2 separate regions of the Homo sapiens genome follow, and region 2 is linked to region 1. The links come from fine-mapping of genetic effects on gene expression. A gene starts in region 1. The other region holds a variant in brackets. All regions are shown on one strand. Distances are from middle to middle. Region 1 holds the start of IGFBP4 (insulin like growth factor binding protein 4). Region 2 overlaps TNS4 (tensin 4).

Region 1 (8,912 bases):
GTGAAGTGCTCATGAGTGAAGCACTTAGATCCCTATCCTGCATGTAGTCTGTGACTACTGTGTTAACTTTTTTTTTTTTTTGAGACAGAGTTTCACTCCTGTAGCCCAGGCTGGAGTGCAATGGTGCCATCTTGGCTCACCGCAATCTCCCCCTCCCAGGTTCAAGTGATTCTCCTGCCTCAGCCTCCCCAGTAGCTGGGATTACAGGCACACGCCACCATGCCCGGCTAACTTTTTGTGTTTTTAGGAGAGACAGGGTTTCACCATGTTGGTCAGTCTGGTCTTGAATTCCTGACCTCAGGTGATCCACCTGCCTCGGCCTCCCAAAGTGCTGGGATTACAGGCGTGAGCCACCGCGTCCGTCCTGCTCTTTTTAGAAACAATTTTATTTTTTATTTTTAAGAGACCAGGTCTGTCTCTGTTACCCAGGCTGGAGTGCAGTGGCACTCATAGTTCACTGCAGCCTTGAACCCTTGGGCTCAAGGGACCCTCCTGCTTCAGCCTCCTGAATAGCTAGGACTATAGGCTCATGCTACCATAGCTGGCTAATTTTTTTTTTTTTTTTTTTTTTTGAGACAGGGTTTCACTCTGTTGCCCAAGCTGGAGTGCAGTGAGCTATCTTGGCTGACTGCAACCTCGACTTCCTGGGCTCAAGTGATTCTGCTACCTCAGCCTCCCAAGCAGCTAGGATCACAGGTGCATGCCACCATGCCTGACTAGTTTTTGTATTTTTTTTTTGCAGAGACAATGTTTTGCCAGGTTGCCCAGGCTGGTCTTGAACTCCTGCGCTCAAGCGATCCACCTGCCTTGGCCTCCCAAAGTGCTGGGATTACAGACGCGAGCCACCATGCCTGGCCCCATGCTCTTTATACAGCCTCTCCCAGACACGACACTTGCAGGCTGAAGGGGGACACTAAACCCAGTCTTCTGAGAGCCTCTAGTTCAGTGGGGGAGACACAGGTCTTGCCACCAGGGGGTCTCAGCCATGTGGAGAAGTTACAGTTCCCAGCAGGAGAGGGGTAGGAGGGAGCAAACACTTGGTGCTTACTATGTGCCAGGCAATTTGGATAGGTCTCTCTCTCTTTCTTGCTGCAAAGTCCCATTTTCCAGATAAGGCCTGAAGCTCAGAGAGCTCAAGTAACTTGTTTTAGGTTTCCTAGTGAGCCCAGTGACACGGCTGGGGTCAGAATCCAGGTCATTGTGACACTCACACTGTGCTGATTCTTGTAGCATGGAAGGCCATTGGCTCAAGGATCATCTCTCTCTTTTTATTTTTTATGGTGAAAAGATATACATATATTTAGAATTGGACAGCTGGACTCAGTTTAGACGATCCCAATTTTGTTGGCAACATCCAAAGCATCGTAATCAGGAGCCAGTCCAACATATGCCTTCTTCTCTCCATCAGGCTGAATCGGGGTGTTGACCTTGGCCACATCAATGTCATAGAGCTTCTTCACAGCCTGTTTGATCTAGTGCTTGTTGGCTTTAACATTCACAATGAACACAAGTGTGTTGTTGTCTTCTATCTTCTTCATGGCAGACTCAGTGGTCAGTGGAAACTTAGTGATAGCATAGTGGTCAAGCTTGTTTCTCCTGGGGGCGCTCTTCTGAGGATATTTGGGCTGCCTCCGGAGTCGCAGTGTCTTGGGCCGCCGGAAGGTGGGTGACCTGTGGATCTTCTTTCTTTTTGTGGCTGTGGACACCTTTCAACACTGCCTTCTTGAGTTCGGCTTTAAGAGGGGCAGGAGATTCTTTCTTTGCCTTCAGCACCGTCTTGTGAAAAAGGATCATCTCTAATGAAGACTTTCAGCCTGTATGCCCTGAATGTAAAACTGACCACCTGTGGCTCTGGATCCCCATTGTGCCCCATATGAACATCTCCCAGGGCACCTGCACACTTCTCAGATTTATTTTATTTACATACTATCGTCCCTCATTAGGCAGTGAGCTCCTTGAGGGCAGGGGGTGATCTTGGTCATCTCTGCATCCCTGGTATGTAGCATAAAGCCTGTGCATATTAGGCGTTCAGTAAATCTGTGTTACATGAATGGTAGGAGGTGCTTGGAAGGCCTCTTTCCTGTGCATCTTCCTGCCTCCTTGGAATTAACCCAATGATGAGGGGTGGAGGGACACCAGAGGATGGACTGAGGGGCTGGCGTTGAGGTGTGGGAATCTGTCTCATCTGGCAACCTTTGCAGATTCCCACACTCACCTGCACTCATGCTTCATCCCAGGCATGTTGCGTGGGTTTGTCCGGCCTCTCCTGCACTCCTGCCTCTGTGTCCTGGCACCTTTTCTCCTCTTGGGCTTGCTGAACAGGGCACATGTCTGGCATTGGGAGCAGAACTACTCTTCTCCATTCATTTTACTCTCACAAGAGCTTCAAGAGGTAGGATGGGTGGAGATGATCTACCTCCATGTTACAGCTAAGGTCAGTCAAACTCCAAGTTCACGCAAGTTGGTGGCAGAACAGGGTCCAGTGATGATCAAGGAAGGAGATGGGGTGGGGAACGTTTTCTTTTCTTTTTTTCTTTTTTTGAGACTGAATCCTGCTCTGTTGCCTAGGCTGGAGTGCAGTGGTGTGATCTCGGCTCACTACAACCTCCATCTCCTGGGTTCAAGCGATTCTCCTGCCTCAGCCTCCTGAGTAGCTGGGACTACAGGCACGTGCCACCACGCCTGACTAATTTTTTTTATTTTTAGTAGAGACGAGGTTTCCCCGTGTTAGCCACGATGGTCTCGATCTCCTGACCTCATGATCCACCCGCCTTGGCCTCCCTAAGTGCTGGAATTACAGCCGTGAGCCACCATGCCCGGCCTGGGGGCAGTTTTCTGAATCAGGCACAGGCTGGGCTTCCCCAGGGACTTGAGGAAGCTGGTTCTGTTTGCCCTTCTCCAAGGCATATGGGGCAGAAGGGTCCCCACTTCATCTATGAGATGGAATGGAGAGAACCCCAGAATCTTGGCCCCAGCCATCACTTTCCAGCCCTTCTGCAGTCTTGATGGTTGCCAGTAGGTGCCGTCAGTTTGCAACTTTTTGGTCTGTCCTGCAGGTCCGGCTGCCAGTCCCAATCTCCCTGCAATCATCTCTCAGTAAGTAGGAGGTAGCCCAATCCCCGTGAGGCTGAAAGACCCCTGTCCTGGGGGAAGAAGCAGGAAGAGGGTCTCTGAACTGCATTTCAGCTTGGCTGACCTGCAGCTTTCTAGGCCGAGACAAAAAAAAAAAAAAATCCACAGTGGGTTACTGATTATTCCTGGACAGGTACGCTTAACCTGAAACCAGCTCCAGTACAGCAGAAGCCTTTGTAGGGAAGAATGGGTGGGAATTAGCGGGGGCCTGAGAGGGAACCTAGGAGATGGATCTTTGCTCCAAATGCCACTCCAGGGCTCTTCTCAATTTGGGCAGGATTGGGCAAGGCTGGGGGAATAGGGATCAATAGGATTTTACAGAGGGTCAAGCCAGGCCCAACACTAGCCCAAGTAGCAACACTGGGTGAATTAAAAAAGCATCCCTTCCTTAAAATTCTTTTTTTTTTTTTTTTTTGAGACAGAGTCTTGCTCTGTCACCTGGACTGGAGTGCAGTGGTATGATCTTGGATCACTGTAACCTCCTCCTCCTGGGGTTCAAGCGATTCTTCTGCCTCAGCCTCCCAAGTAGCTGGGATTACAGGCATGCGCCACCACGCCCGGCTAATTTTTGTATTTTTAGTAGAGATGGGGTTTCACCGTGTTGGCCAGACTGGTCTCAAACTCCTGACCTCAGGTGATCTGCCCACCTTGGCCTCCCAAAGTGCTAGGATTACAGGCATGAGCCACTACGCCTGGCCTTCTTTTTTCTCTTTCTTTCTTTTTTTTTTTGAGATGGAGTCTCGCTCTGTCGCCCAGGTTGGAGTGCAGTGGCGCAATCTCAGCTCACTGCAAGCTCCACCTCCCGGGATCATGCCATTCTCCTGCCTCAGCCTCCCTAGTAGCTGGGACTACAGGCACCCGCCACCACGCCCGGCTAACTTTTTGTATTTTTAGTAGAGAGGGGGTTTCACCGTGCTAGCCAGGATGGTCTCGATTTCCTGACCTCGTGATCTGCCCGCCTCGGCCTCCCAAAGTGCTGGGATTACAGGCGTGAGCCACCGCGCCCGGCCTTCTTTCTTTCTTTCTTTTTTAGACAGAGTTTCCTTCTTTCACCTAGGCTGGTGTGCAGTGGTACAATTCTAGCTCACTGCAGCCTCCAACTCCTGGGCTCAAGTGATCCTCTTGCCTCAGGCTCCCGAGTACCTGGGACCACAGGTGAACGCCACCACACCTGGCTAATTTTAAAATTTTTTTGTAGAGACAAGGTCTCACTACGTTGCCCAGACTGGTCTTGAACTCCTGGGCTCAAGTGATCCTCCCGCCTCAGCCTCCAAAAGTGCTGACATTACAGGTGTGAGTCACTGCTGCAGGCCCCTCAAATCCTTCACTGCCATCTGGGAAATGATCACAACAGCTCTACAAATACACAATGATTACAAGGAATGGTGCCCCACTGGAGTTGTTCAACGCAAAACTTGCACATTGCAAGTGGCAATCTCCCAGGCCTGCCTCCCTCCACGAGTGGGTCTGAATGGGCCTGAGAGGCAAACATCCAAGAAGGAGGAAGAGGCTCGGCGGCACCTCCCTCCCCGGGAGTTCTGCTGATTCCATCTTGGGGAAGCAGGGTGGACCAGGGCCCAAATGCGCCCTGGGGAGATTGCGGGGGCGGGAGAGGTTGCAAGGGGCAAGTGGCAAGAGCCTGTTAACGTCTTAGGGCCTCCAGGCCTTTCTGTGCCCCTAGCTGTGCCTGTACGCTTTACCCCACCTCAGGAGGCTTGGTCTCCAGCGGTTGAGGCTGGAAGCACCGGGGTGCGGTGGAAAGGGCTCTGTCCAGGAAGACCGGATCCGCAGAGCCGGGAGTCCGGGCTAGGAAGTCCCTTTCTCGGTGGGAGACTGAGGCCGCCTTGGCGGGGCGGGACGAGACTCCTCCGAGGTCGGGAAAGGGGGCCCCGCAGCAGCCCCTTGGCTTCCCTTCTCCCTTGCCTCCCCTCCGGGGCTCCGGTTCAGAGGCACTCTGGGCGCCTGCTACAGCTTCCAAACTGCGCCGCTTCCTTCTTCGGCAGAAAAGGACTTTCAGATGCGGCGGCGGCGGCGGCGGCGACTCAGGACAGCGCCCCCTCCCCCTAACGGCCGCCTCTCCCTCTCCCCCTCGCCCGCCCCGGCTCCCCCACCTCTGGGAAGGCGCTGGGGGTGTGGCCAGGGACCGGTATAAAGTCCGGGGGAGCCGGTCCCGGGCAGCCGCTCAGCCCCCTGCCCCTCGCCGCCCGCCGCCTGCCTGGGCCGGGCCGAGGATGCGGCGCAGCGCCTCGGCGGCCAGGCTTGCTCCCCTCCGGCACGCCTGCTAACTTCCCCCGCTACGTCCCCGTTCGCCCGCCGGGCCGCCCCGTCTCCCCGCGCCCTCCGGGTCGGGTCCTCCAGGAGCGCCAGGCGCTGCCGCCGTGTGCCCTCCGCCGCTCGCCCGCGCGCCCGCGCTCCCCGCCTGCGCCCAGCGCCCCGCGCCCGCGCCCAGTCCTCGGGCGGTCATGCTGCCCCTCTGCCTCGTGGCCGCCCTGCTGCTGGCCGCCGGGCCCGGGCCGAGCCTGGGCGACGAAGCCATCCACTGCCCGCCCTGCTCCGAGGAGAAGCTGGCGCGCTGCCGCCCCCCCGTGGGCTGCGAGGAGCTGGTGCGAGAGCCGGGCTGCGGCTGTTGCGCCACTTGCGCCCTGGGCTTGGGGATGCCCTGCGGGGTGTACACCCCCCGTTGCGGCTCGGGCCTGCGCTGCTACCCGCCCCGAGGGGTGGAGAAGCCCCTGCACACACTGATGCACGGGCAAGGCGTGTGCATGGAGCTGGCGGAGATCGAGGCCATCCAGGAAAGCCTGCAGCCCTCTGGTAAGGTACCCCTGGCCTCCCAATTCCCTCCTGAGTGCGCTCCCTTCCCAGCGGCTTCTTCCCCATTCCAGCCGCCCTGGAAGGCCCTTAAAAATCCCCTATGAGTTGAAGAGAAGGCAGGTACGTGGCAGGGCCCGACTGGCATGGGACAGGCTCATCAAGGAAACTGCTACCGAGTCCCTAGCAGCCTGTTGCCACCACCAAGGGAGACTGTCCCATCGCTCCATCTCAAACCTCCAAGGGTTGTCTGTTTGATAAGGGGGTCCCAGTGGGAGGCCTGGCTGCTGGTGCAGGAGTGGCAGATTAAGGTCCAGTTAAGTCAGCTGTCTAGGGCCAGAGAACTGGAGGATGGTGGTGGGGTGTGTGTTGGGGAGGATGAGGGAGTGGGGAAAGCTTTCTGTTCCTGATCCAGGCCGAGGGTGAAATCCCAGTGGTCTGGGGAGCCAGGGCCTGAACTTTTTTTTTACATGGTCCAGTGGTGGAGTGGGACATACAAATTAGAGGGACTTTGGCGTTGAGGGGCATTAGACTTGCCCTTCCCCAAAGCCCAGAGCCAGGTCACCTTGTTGTTTGAGAGGCAGTGGGAAGACAGGGGTCCCTCTGCCAGGCCTGGACACCTCTGCCTGCCCTGGTATACAGGCCCCCTGTTCTTTTCTCCAGGCAGGTAGGATTTGAGGTGGTAGAAAAGTCTTGGCTCCTAGCCGAGAGCTGCAGGAGCCTCATGTGTGTGGGATAGGGAATAGAGAAGGGGCCAGGGCGCCAGGGGAGAGAAACAGAGAGAGAGAGAGAGAGAGAGAGAAACACACACACACACACACACACACACACACACACACACACACAGAGACAGAGAGAGAGAGAGAGAGAGAGAGAGAGAGAGAGAGAGAGAGAGAGAGAGAGACTCTGAGAAGGCCCTTGCCCTAACCTCATTCTTACACTTTCTTTTTTTGTTTCTCAGTTTCTCCTTAGACTCTCAGTCTCTTTTCCTTCTTTCTCTTGCTCTTTTGTTCTTCCTGATTTGTCTCTCAACCTCTAGTTTCACTAGTCATGCTCTCGAGTTCTGTTTTCCTCAGTGTCTTCTGCCCATCGTGCGTTTCTTTCTCCACCTTATTCTGTGTTTCTGTTTCAGTTGCTCTGCTTCTCTCCCTCTCTTTCTGTTGCTGTTTCTCTGTGTCTCTGTCACTGTTGGTCTTTCCCTGTTACTTTGGGAATCTCTCTGTCTGTCTTTCTGTATCTATGCCTCTGTTTCTCATTCCATCTCCGACCCTGTTTTGCTCTCCTGTGCCTCTGTCTGTCTCTGTCTCTTTTCCTGGTGCTTGAAGCTTCCATTGTTGCAGTCCGGATGCTGGGACTCCAGCCCCAAGCTTCCTGTCCTGGGACCCAAACCCTCCACTTCCTCAATCCTCTGCAGCTTGTCAGCCGAGGAGAGCAGGATGCAGGGAAAACAGGAAGGAGGTGGACTCCAGGGGTCTGGGCCTCGGGCCTCTCTGCCCTTCCTGCCCCTGGGTAGGGAGAGATGGGTCAGCAGAAAACATTCTAGGAGAAATGCCAGCCTGGCACCCAGCATATCTGGGAAGGGGGGTCCTGGGGGAGAAAGTCGCTAATCTTGGGGCAGAGATGCCAGTGGCAATGGTAGAGGAGGGGTACTGAGACTGGGAGGGAGCAAGGGCCGAGCCCTTGGGTTCGCGGGGTACAACAGAGTCACGTTCCCTTTGAATCTCCATCCTCCACCAGCCAGAGGGTATCTGGCACCAGATAAGGATGGCTGGTAGCCTCCTCCTCTCTCAGCACTTTGAATGCAAGACAGAAGAGCCCTCAAAGGGCTGGGTAGGAATACCTCATCCTCTGGTTGGGTAGGAATACTCCATCCTGTAGTGGAGGAAAATAAGATCCCCTAGGGGTTTGGGGAGGGCATGGCATGAGAATTTTGTGGTTGTCCTCTGGATATAATGCAAACTGGCCTCCAGGAATATCTAGGGGCTGGGTGTGGAGGTTCATGCTTGTAATCCCAGCACTTTGGGAGGATTGCTTGAGGCCAGGAGTTCGAGACCAGCCTGAGCAATATAGCCAGACCCCCGTCTCTACAAAAAAAAAAAAAAAAAAATAGGCAACTGCAGTGGCTCATGCCTGTAGTCCCAGGTATTTGGGAGTCTGAGATGAGAAGTTCAAGGTTACAATGAGCTATGATCACGTGATTGCACTCCAGCCTGGGCGACTCTATTTCGTAAAAAAAAAAAAAAAAAAAAGTAGGCCGGGTGCAGTGGCTCACACCTGTAATCTCAGTATTTTGGGAGGCTGAGGAGGGTGAATCACCTGAGGTCAGGAGTTTGAGACCAGCCTGGTCAACATGGTGAAACCTCGTCTCTACTAAAAATACAAAAATTAGCTGGGCATGGTGGTGCGTGCCTGTAGTCCCAGCTACTTGGGAGGCTGAGGCAGGAGAATCACTTGAACCCGGGAGGTGGAGGTTGCAGTGAACCAAGATTGTGCCACTGCGCTTTAGCCTGGGTGACAGAGCGAGACTCTGTCTAAAGAAAACAAAACAAATAAACAAAAAAAACAAAAAACGGTGTCTTGGAATGGGGTGGCTTTAGGTCCCCTTTGGATGACACAGCCAAGGTCTGTAATGCCCCTCCCCCTTTCCTCCTTGCCTTGTCCTCCAGCCTCCAGCCATGCAATGGATGCAGGTATCTGGAGAGAGACGAGGGAAGCCTGGAGGTACCTACTGAGCAAGCTATGCCCGTGCCCTCCCACACCTCCTAGTCATCATAGAAGTAATCCCTTGCTGTGACCTGGGCCACATGGCACCATGTAAAAGGCACTCTCTAGAGTTCTGCTGCAGCCCTGCAGGGTCTGTGGGTGAGATAAGACGACCAAGCCCCTACCCACCCATCTTTTTAGCCTTACACAGTCAGTAGGCCACTGTCTGCTTTAGGTCCCAAGGTTTGGGCCCACTGGCCCGCGAATAG
Region 2 (9,112 bases), 35 kb after region 1:
ATAACTTCTGGGTCATTAGGTTGTTGCTGCCATGGAAAGGGGTGGTAATTTCTGGGTGTTGCCACGGCAATGGTAAACTGACATGTCACACTGGTGGGTGTGTCTTATGGAAAGCTCCTCCCACCCCATCCCTGTTTTAGCTAGTCCTCAGTTTGGACCTGTGTCCAAGCCCTGCCTCTGGAGTGCAGTCCCGCTTCCTATCTCATCCTCATTACCTATGGGATAAAGCCCAAGCAGGGTGCCATGTATGACCATGCACTGCATAGCCCACAAAATCATACACAGCAGGCCTGAGTCCCATCTCCTTCATTCAGCAAGTATTCAATCTCCAGACATTCTCAGCTGGCACCCAAGGGTCCTGAGGGTCCTGTTGCTGTCTTTTTCTTCTGCTTTCTCTCTCACCTACTCCCTTAGGTACCATGTACTTGAGCCACACCAAACTTGGTACATCTTTTCATACCTGTGTGCTTCACACACGAATGTCTCCATCTGCTTTCTGTGAATGCTGGGGCAATAGGATGGGCATGGACTTGAAATCCTGTTTCTCTGCCATTTACAGTTAGGTGAATGTGGGCAAGTTAACCCTCTGAGCCCCAGTTTTCTAATCTGTAAAATGGGATTAGGCTTATATAATGTGCCTCAGATTGTATGTAGCACATGAGAGCCCCTCCCCACTCCTAAAAGTTGGTTTCTAACTCTCTTTGCATGCCGAACTCCTATTCATCCTTGAAGACCCAACTCAAATGTTACCTTCTTGGTAACATTGCCCTCCTTCCCTTCAAGTGGGTAAAGTTTATCTTTCTCAGTTTCTACTCTTTCCACCAGCCCTGCATAGCACTTATAAACCTCTGTTGGAAACACTGTCATATTTTTCTGTTTTCCTGGTTCACATGAATAAAGCACACAGCCAGAAAACATTTGTTGCATGAATTAAGGCACTGGCCCCTGGGTTGAAAGCCTTTAACCCTACCCCTGCCCTGGGTCTAAGACCTTGCCCTGGGTCTAAGCCCTGGCACAAGAATGCAGGATCAGAGGCCAGAGATAAAACAGAGCAGTGAGCAGCCTCCGCCCTCGGTGGGGCACGGGCATGGGGCGGTGGCTGGTCAGATGGTCGGGGTAAGGGCACTTCAGCCTCCTGGAGAGGTCTCTGTAGCCTGAGAGCAGGCAGGGTTTAGAGGGTGTGGGAACCTGAGTTTTTGTTTGTTTGTTTGTTTTAGAGATAGCATGTTGCTCTGTCAACCAGGCTGGAGTGCAGTGGCACGATCACAGCTCACTGCAACTTCCGCCTCCCAGTTTCAAGGGATTCTCATGCCTCAGTCTCCCGAGTACCTGGGACTACAGGTGCGCTACCTTGCCCGGCTAATTTTTGTATTTTTTGTAGAGATGGGGTTTCACCATGTTGGCCAGGCGGGTCTCAAACTGGAACCTGAGTTTTGAGAAATGATTGGCAGTGCGAGAGTCTCCCCAGTTCCCTTCTGCTGCATGTCCAGCCACCTGGGACAACGGGGCGAGGAAATTCAACTGGAAAAGAGCAAGAAGGAGGAAAGGTTTCTCTGCAAAGGGGTGATCGAGTAGAGAAGGCATAATGAGGAGAGATGGTGAGAAAGGAGAGAGGGGAAGTGGGAGAAGAGAGGGAGGGAGGGTGGGTGGTATGAGTGTGTACGGAGATCAAGAAAGGGATGGAGAGGGATGAAAAGACTGGGGAGAGAGACACTGGAGCGAGGGCTGCGGCAGGGGTTAAGACCCAGGGCTATAAGGCCTGGAGCCTCCTGGAGAGAACACTCCTCTGGTGTCCTTGGGTGGATAAGATGGCTCCTCCCCTCCTGGTTCCTGGCTCAGTGGTTATCCTGCCTCCCCTCTGCTGTCCAGCCCTCCCACCCCTGCCGGGCTGGCTGCTTTGCCCTCAGCAGTCTTAAGTCAAGTTCTCCGCTAAACCTTCTTAGGGGAAACATGAGCTGTGGCAAATGCAGCAGAAATGATCGCCTTCCACGAACTCTGTTCCATGCTGGGCCAAGCGGGGCCACAGCAGGAGACTGAGAGGAGACTGAGAGGAGTCTCCATCTGGAACTGCACTGGGGCAGTGGAAAGGGAGGCAGAGGCTAACCAGCGGTGGTTCAAGGCCCCTGCCACTGGGTCACATAGCTCAGCCCAGAGAGAAGGAGGCGCTCTCCCATTCCCAAAACTTTTCAGGAGAACAGAAGTGCCATAGCCTCTCTTGCATCGCTTGCTGAGGCCTTCTCAGGGCATGCCAGCCTTGGCTCCCTAGTTGCAGCGAAGTCTGGAGCAGGTCTGGGAGGGAGGCATTCCTCTGGGACTGGCTTAGGGGAGGACTGCCACTGGAAGGAGCTGGGGGTAGAACTCCCCAGGCCCAGGGTGGGATCAAGAGGCCATGGTCCAGTTCTTTTTCTTTTCTTTTTTTTTTTTTGAGACAGGGTCTCACTCTGTCACTCAGGCTGGAGTACAGTGGCACAACCACAGCTCACTGCAGCCTTGACCCCCCAGGCTCAAGGGATCTTCTCACCGCAGCCTCCCAAGTAGCTGGGGCTACAGGTATGTGCCACCACGTCTGGCTAACTTTTTGTATTTTTTTTGTAGAGACAGGGTCTCCCTATGTTGCCCAGGCTGGTCTCGAACTCCTAGGTTCAATCCATCCTCCCGCTTTGGCCTCCCAAAGTGCTGGGATTACAGGTGCGAGCCACCACACCCGACCACAGTCCAGCTCTTCAGGGCGGAGCTGGCAGCTCTGGGGCCATCTGGGTTCGGGGACTCTTCCGGACTCCTCTTGAGGGGTTCATGTTTTGCCCGCCTCTCCTTGTCTCTCAGTGGGGGCTGAGTGAGACCTTGGAATCCGTCAGGGGCACCGTACACACTCACTTTGGGCCCCGGGAAATCACAATCCTTTTGTTTCCCTGGCAGAGTGGCAGGAAAGGGGCGATGAAGAAAGAAGAACAAGCGTGTTGGGCATGTGGGGGACACAGAGTGGTTTAAGCAATGGTTTACGAAGTGGAAGCCTGCTGAGCCTGTAGCGCCGTGGCCAGGGGTGCGGGAGGGAGTGTGGCACACCTGGTCTCCCCTAAGACACAGCCACGCCCTCCCAAGTCAGTCCCCCTTCTCTCTTCAGGTCTCCATTTCCAAGGGCACAGCCCTGACTGCCTCAGAACTTACTGTTTTGCAAAGACAAACATTTTATTTTTCATGATAGGAGCTGTAGCAGAGTATATGGGGGCCTCTGCCAGCCCCCAGGCTGGGACTGGGGCCTGTGACCTTGAGAACCTCATCTCACATTCTGCAGACTTTGGCGGCGGGGCAGTGCTCGACCACTGGCTGGGTGGGCTGGTCTCAGCCTCTCCTGCAGGCCCAGGGCTGAAATCATAACCGTCAGGCCCAGCCTTGGCCAAAGATAATGCAACTTTGGCAGGGCTGGCTGCTGGGAGGGGGCAGGCACTTGCTCCTCGTAGAGCAAGAGTGGGTTTCTTCCCTGACCCTCCCTTCCACCCCGGTAGGGTGGTTTCCTTAGGAACTCAGGCCTGCGGGAGAAATGGTTCCAGCTTCTGGAGGCTGGGTGGGGGTGGGGTGGGGGTGGGTGTGGGATAGAGCCCAGCTCCTCCAAGCCTCTTAGGGAAGCGGCCTCTTTGCATTCTTGACTCTCTGCTTCCCCCGTGTGGCT[G/T]TGAGGCTGGTTGAAGCCACATAGCAGTAGAGGGGCGTGTGTGTGTGTGTGTGTGTGTGTGTGTGTGTGTGTGTGTGTGTGTGTGTGTGTGTGTGTTGGAGCGTGGGTTGGGGGAGGGCTCAGCAAGACAGGAGCTGAGGCAGAATCACAGAGAGATGGCCCTTATCTCTGCCCCCGCCGCCTAATATGCAACATTAGGGCAGCTACGATACCAGCTTTGGAATACTCGCCTATCAAGGAATGGAAAGAAGCTGGGCTGGGTGGCTTGCGCCTGTAATCCCAGCACTTTGGGAGGCCGAAGCAGGTGGATTACCTGCGGTCAGGAGTTCAAGACCAGCCTGGCCAACATGGTGAAACCCTGTCTCTACTAAAAATACAAAATTAGCTGGGTGAGTTGCACATGCCTGTAATCCCAGCTACTTGGGAGCCTGAGGCAGGATAATTGCTTGAACCTGGGAGGTGGAGGTTGCAGTGAGCCTAGATCACACCACTGCAGTTCAGCCTGGGTGACAGTGAGACTCTGTCTCAAAAAAAAATAAAAATAAAAACCAAGTGGAAAGAAAAGATGGGGTGATACTCATCTGCAAGGGGGTGCAGGACAGCTGGGTCTCCTCTGACCATGGGGACAAGTTCCCCCTGCTGAGCTGCCCTAAATACCACACCCAGCTTGGCCTGCAGCATCCTGGCTGGGTGGACCCAAAAAGCCACCCAGAAAGTGGGAAAAGGAACAGAGGAACAGATATGGAAGGAAATAGAGTCTATCCATTCCTGTTTTGTAGTCAGTTCTTGACCATCACCAGCTGCAAGCCAGGAGCCCCGTGGGTCACCGCCAGGCACCTGCTGTCTGCCACGAAACAGGGGCTGCAGGTCTCTTGCTCAGACTGTTGTGTGGGCAGGGCCCAGGTCGATGGGGTCAGAGGGTCCTTGGAGGTTATTTTCATGCAGGGGTCTTCAGAGGTGTGCATGCTTCAGAATCATGGAGGAGCATGTTCAAATGCCCACCAGCATCTAAGAACAGCTGATCTTGTCTATTGGTCTTCTTCTATGATTGAGGAAACTGAGGCCCGGGGGGTCTGGATGATGGTGACTGCTGAAGGCCATAGCAGGTTCAAGGGTGTCAACTTGATGCCAATCCCCCTAGTCCCATAGATTGGTCTGTCAATATGGCCACAAGCCACACCCATTCAGGGGGTGGAGGGGGGCTCCTTAGCGAGCCCCTGGAGGTGTTGGTTAGGTGCACAGGCAGTCTCTCCCCTACATCCTTTCTGCGTCCTGCAGCAGAGCAGTCACCAGGCCGATGACCTGCGAGGCTGGCTGGACCATGTCATACTCCGCAAAGAGGTGGCATACGTTCTCCTGAGGCTCTGTCTGGCTCTTGGCCACAAACCCAAAGATCCTGGTGGGGGAGGGCAGTCTGAGTGAGGGGTGGGACCCAGGGAGGCATCAGGCTGGTGGGAATGGGGTGGTGGGGGGCCCTCAGCCTGCATCTCATTCCTCCCTGCCCCTCCCTTAGCCAATTGACTCCAGCACCTCCTTATGGTGGGGCTCCCTGGGGAAGGAGATGCCTCTCCCGTCAGACTGGGAGATTTCTGAGTTCAAGCTCTGGGTTTCCTTTGTTTTGAGTGAGGGCTCCTTGAGGACAGGACCTGTGCATTCCCCATTAGAGTGGAAGCTCCCTGAGGGCAAGGATGCATCTTGATCATCAGACTGGGACATTCCAATAGCTTGAGGCTCCCTGAAGTTAGAGCCTGTGCCTCTTGCAGAAGATTGAGGGCTCCCAGGCTCATGTCACCCCCAACAGCCCAGAGGCTCTGAGGGCAGTCAAAGTCTTTCCCATCAGATGGGAGCTCCCTGAGGACCAGGGCCTGTGCCCTCATCAACACTTTGGACTATTAAAGTCAGAATGGTGCCTCTTTCCTTCTGCAGTTCCCTCCCCATGTTGGGTTTGGGGCCCTGAGACAGGAAGGCCTTACCAGGAGGGTTTGCAGTACTTCTGCCACCTGTAGGAAAAGAACATGATACCGAGTAATGAGGCTTCGCTCCATGCCACAGGACCCTGGAGGAGCAGCAGGACTGGCCAGCTGCGTCCCCACCCCACCATGCCCCACCCTACCCTCATTCTGTCACCCTGACCCCTTGAGGTTCACAGGCTCCCTCTGGGATCCCAGGCCCAGAGTCGGCAGGACGCCTTGGTGGGCAGCGGGGCCCTGGACAGCCTTCTTAGTTTGGCCCAGCCTTGAACTTACTTCCGTTGCTCAGGGTCCATACCACAGAAGCGGAGGGTGGTGAGTGGGTAATGGCGCCGGAAAAACACCCTAGGAGGAGGCGGGGAGAGAAGGGAAGCGATGACAGCCTGTCCCAGTGTCATCCTGCCTCCAGCATCTCTCGTTCCCCCCAAGCTCAGGTGCCCTGTCCTCCAAGAAGTCTCTGGGTTAGACCTTGAAGACCGCTATGGCCTTTCCCACTGGGGGGCCCTGGCGCCCCGCTCCTGCCTCTCTCCTCTCATGGGGCTTGTCTGCCTCTGTCTTACACTCTGGGGTTTTCTATCACACCCCTACCACGCCATTTAATTTTTTTTGGCCACTAACTTTTTGAGGACACGAATTACATCTTGGTCATCTCTTGTTTCTCCCTGTGAAGTGCTCAGCCCTGGATCAGGCTCCTGTTAGACTGTGAGATCCGAGCCTGGGGAAGGAACGATCTCATTCCTCTCTGGGTCCCAGTGGTCAGCCAGTCTGGCCGAGGGAAGATGTTCCATCAATGGGTGCAGGCATAATCGGCACCCATGAATACTAGTTAACTCCATTTCCTTCCTTCCTTCCTTCCTTTTTTGAGATGGAGTTTCACTCTGTCACCCAGGTTGGAGTGCAATGGCGTGCTCTCAGCTCACTACAACCTCCGCCTCCTGGGTTCAAGCAATTCTCCTGCCTCAGCCTCCCAAGTAGCTGGGATTACAGGTGCGTGCCACCATGCCCGGCTAATTTTGTATTTTTAGTAGAGACGGGGTTTCATCATGTTGACCAGGCTGGTCTCGAACTCCTGACCTCAGGTGATCCGCCCGCCTCGGCCTCCCAAAGTGCTGGGATTACAGGCATGAGCCACCGTGCCCGGCCCCCGTTAACTCCATTTTCATCAGTCATGATGAACAGGGGCTTTGGCAGTGGAGTGAGGCCTGGAGGAGGCAGGGAAGCTGCCTGGAGTCACTCAGCACATCACTGGCCCCGCTGGGTCATCCAGAACCCTGAACTTGACCTTCATCCCTGATCTGCAGCTGTCTCAGCTATCCCCTCCAGCTCTACTCCGCCAGCCCCGGAGCCCCAGGGCAAGGGAAGGCCCTTACTTCCTCTGGACATCAGTCAGAGTGATGCCCTGCTCTGTGACTTTGAAGTGGACCACGGTGGGCGTGGGGAGGATGTCCCTCTCAAAGGTGGTGGAGATGGCTTTCTGCACGGCCAGGGCTCCAGTCAGGGTCTCCACGCTCACTGAGCTCAGGTACAGGGTGTGGCAGCCTGTGGGAGGCAGACACTGCGCTGGGGCCACTGACCCAGGGCCCAGGTTCTCCCTCTGCCCAGGGCCAGGGGAGGGGGTGAGTCTCCTGTTCAGGAATCCAGTGGAGCTCCTCTTAGAGCCGCCACCCAACAGAAAGTGGGTGTGTGGGTGATCACAGTTTGAGGCCAACCCCAGAGGGCTTTGGGATCTTCTGTGGCTTTGCATCGCCCTGGCCCCTGGCCCTCCAGCATGGGGCAGGGGAGGGGATGTTGCCCTGTGTGTAGAGGTGCCCAGGAAAACATCCTTCTGTCCACACTTAACGGCTGCTCTCCTCCCCACACCTCCATCTTCAAGGTCTTGGTTCATTGGCAACGGTAGGGACAGAAGACAAGAATGGGGAAGGAAATTGTTCGTGCTCAGGGCATAGAGCAGGAACAGTCACTGAGACAAGTGCTGATGTGTGCTGGCCTCTGGGAGTGTGGGTCAGGGACCTTTCCCCTGGTGAAGGCTCCAGGACTTAGACCTGACACCCCATAGAGGATCCCAGACCCAGAACCACCTCTAGGGCAGGTTTCTCAGACCTAGAGAGACCCTAGCACGTGTGCACATGCCCATGTGTGTGCAGGAGGGACTGTAAGTTCTGCCACTCCCCCCACCCCCCACCCTGCCCCACTTCCCTGCTGGCCTCTCATCTTCTGTTTTACAGGGGTGATGGGGAGCGGGTGTGGCACCTTGTTAAAGATGCAGAAACAAAGCTGAGATGGGAAACACGTGTGTGCCTGTGCGTGTGTGCGTGCATGCGTGCGTGTGTGCAGGGTTGGGAGGTGCCCTCTTGGGGCACAGCCAAGCTTGGCGCCTCCCTTCCTGTACCACTCACCCGCAGATTTCTTCTGGCAGGAGGCTGGGCTGTCTGTAGAGTCCGAGGCCCCATCTGCACCTCCCAGTTCTGAGCCAAGGCAAAGAAACAGGCCCCCCAAAGGGGCGGGGGTGGAGTGAATGGACCCCTCTCACAGGAACAGGCCTCATGAATCCCTTTGAAGATCTCCCACCTCCACCCCCATCTCCAGGAAGTGACTCAAACCAGGTGTGATTACCGTAATTAGGCAAACAGGCCACTTTGGGCTCCCTAAATGCTTAGTTTGCAACCCTTTTGATCTCTTCATCCCCTCCTCGCCCCCCCACCTCTTAGATGGCTGCCATGATCTTGTCCTCACAGGCCCCTGACCTCCTCACTTCTTTTGGACCCTGTCTCAACCCCTGACCTGTCTTTGCAGAAAGCGAGGAGGCTCTCACCATCGCTCCTCTGGGGCTCCCTTGCCTTGATGCCCTTCCAGAAACAGCCCTTCTCGAGCTTCTCCTGCACACCCCTGAGATGATCTATTTCATCTGAGCTGCCCCCCTACCTGGCTGTATGCTCTGGATAGGGCATGCTGATCTGGGTTCAAGGTCTGACTCTGTGGGCCTTTGGGCAAATTACGTAACATCTAGAACCCTCGTTTTCTTTTCCTTCCTTTCCTTCCTTCTTTCTCTCTTTCTCTCTTTCTTTCTTTCTTAGATGAAGTCTTGCTCTGTCGCTCTGTCACCCAGGCTAGAGTGCAGTGGTGCGATCTTAGCTCACTGCAACCTCTGCCTCCCCGGCTCAAGTGATTCTCCTGCCTCAGCCTCCTGAGTAGCTGGGATTACAGGCGCCCACCACCACGCCCAGCTAAATTTTTGTATTTTTAGTAGAGACGGGGTTTCACCATGTTGGCCAGGCTGGTTTCGAACTCCTGACCTCAAGTGATCTGCCCGCCTTGGCCTCCCGAAGTGCTGGGATTACAGGCGTGAGTCACCACGCCCAGCCCTTATTTTCTTATCTGTGAAATGGGGATGATAACAGCAAAGTCTACTTCACAAGCTTGTAGTGAAGCATGAATGGGTGAGTGAGTGCTCAACAAATGCTGGACCTGGAAAGAG

What was found. PIP is the estimated chance that this variant, and not a neighbour inherited with it, causes the effect.
Region 2: its variant is fine-mapped to the expression of IGFBP4 in whole blood (TOPMed, PIP above 0.99). The same link has a PIP of 0.9 or more in T cells and blood mononuclear cells.

What each region holds. Positions count from the first base shown.
Region 1 is chr17:40,438,142-40,447,053 of GRCh38, forward strand. IGFBP4 (insulin like growth factor binding protein 4) reads left to right here and starts at 5,309. Exons shown (of 4, transcript NM_001552.3): 1 at 5,309-5,943. The coding sequence starts at 5,595. It also overlaps the pseudogene RPL23AP75. RefSeq lists an enhancer at 3,110-3,159 and silencers at 5,206-5,395, 5,406-5,455, 5,466-5,515.
Region 2 is chr17:40,472,667-40,481,778 of GRCh38, forward strand. TNS4 (tensin 4) reads right to left here. Exons shown (of 13, transcript NM_032865.6): 9 at 8,034-8,102; 10 at 7,008-7,176; 11 at 5,914-5,982; 12 at 5,641-5,667; 13 at 3,168-5,063. The coding sequence ends at 4,922. Among named protein-coding and RNA genes, the nearest start is that of TNS4, 24 kb to the right of the region's middle. RefSeq lists an enhancer at 7,451-8,650 and a silencer at 8,633-8,818. The variant G/T (reference allele first, on the strand shown) is at 3,668.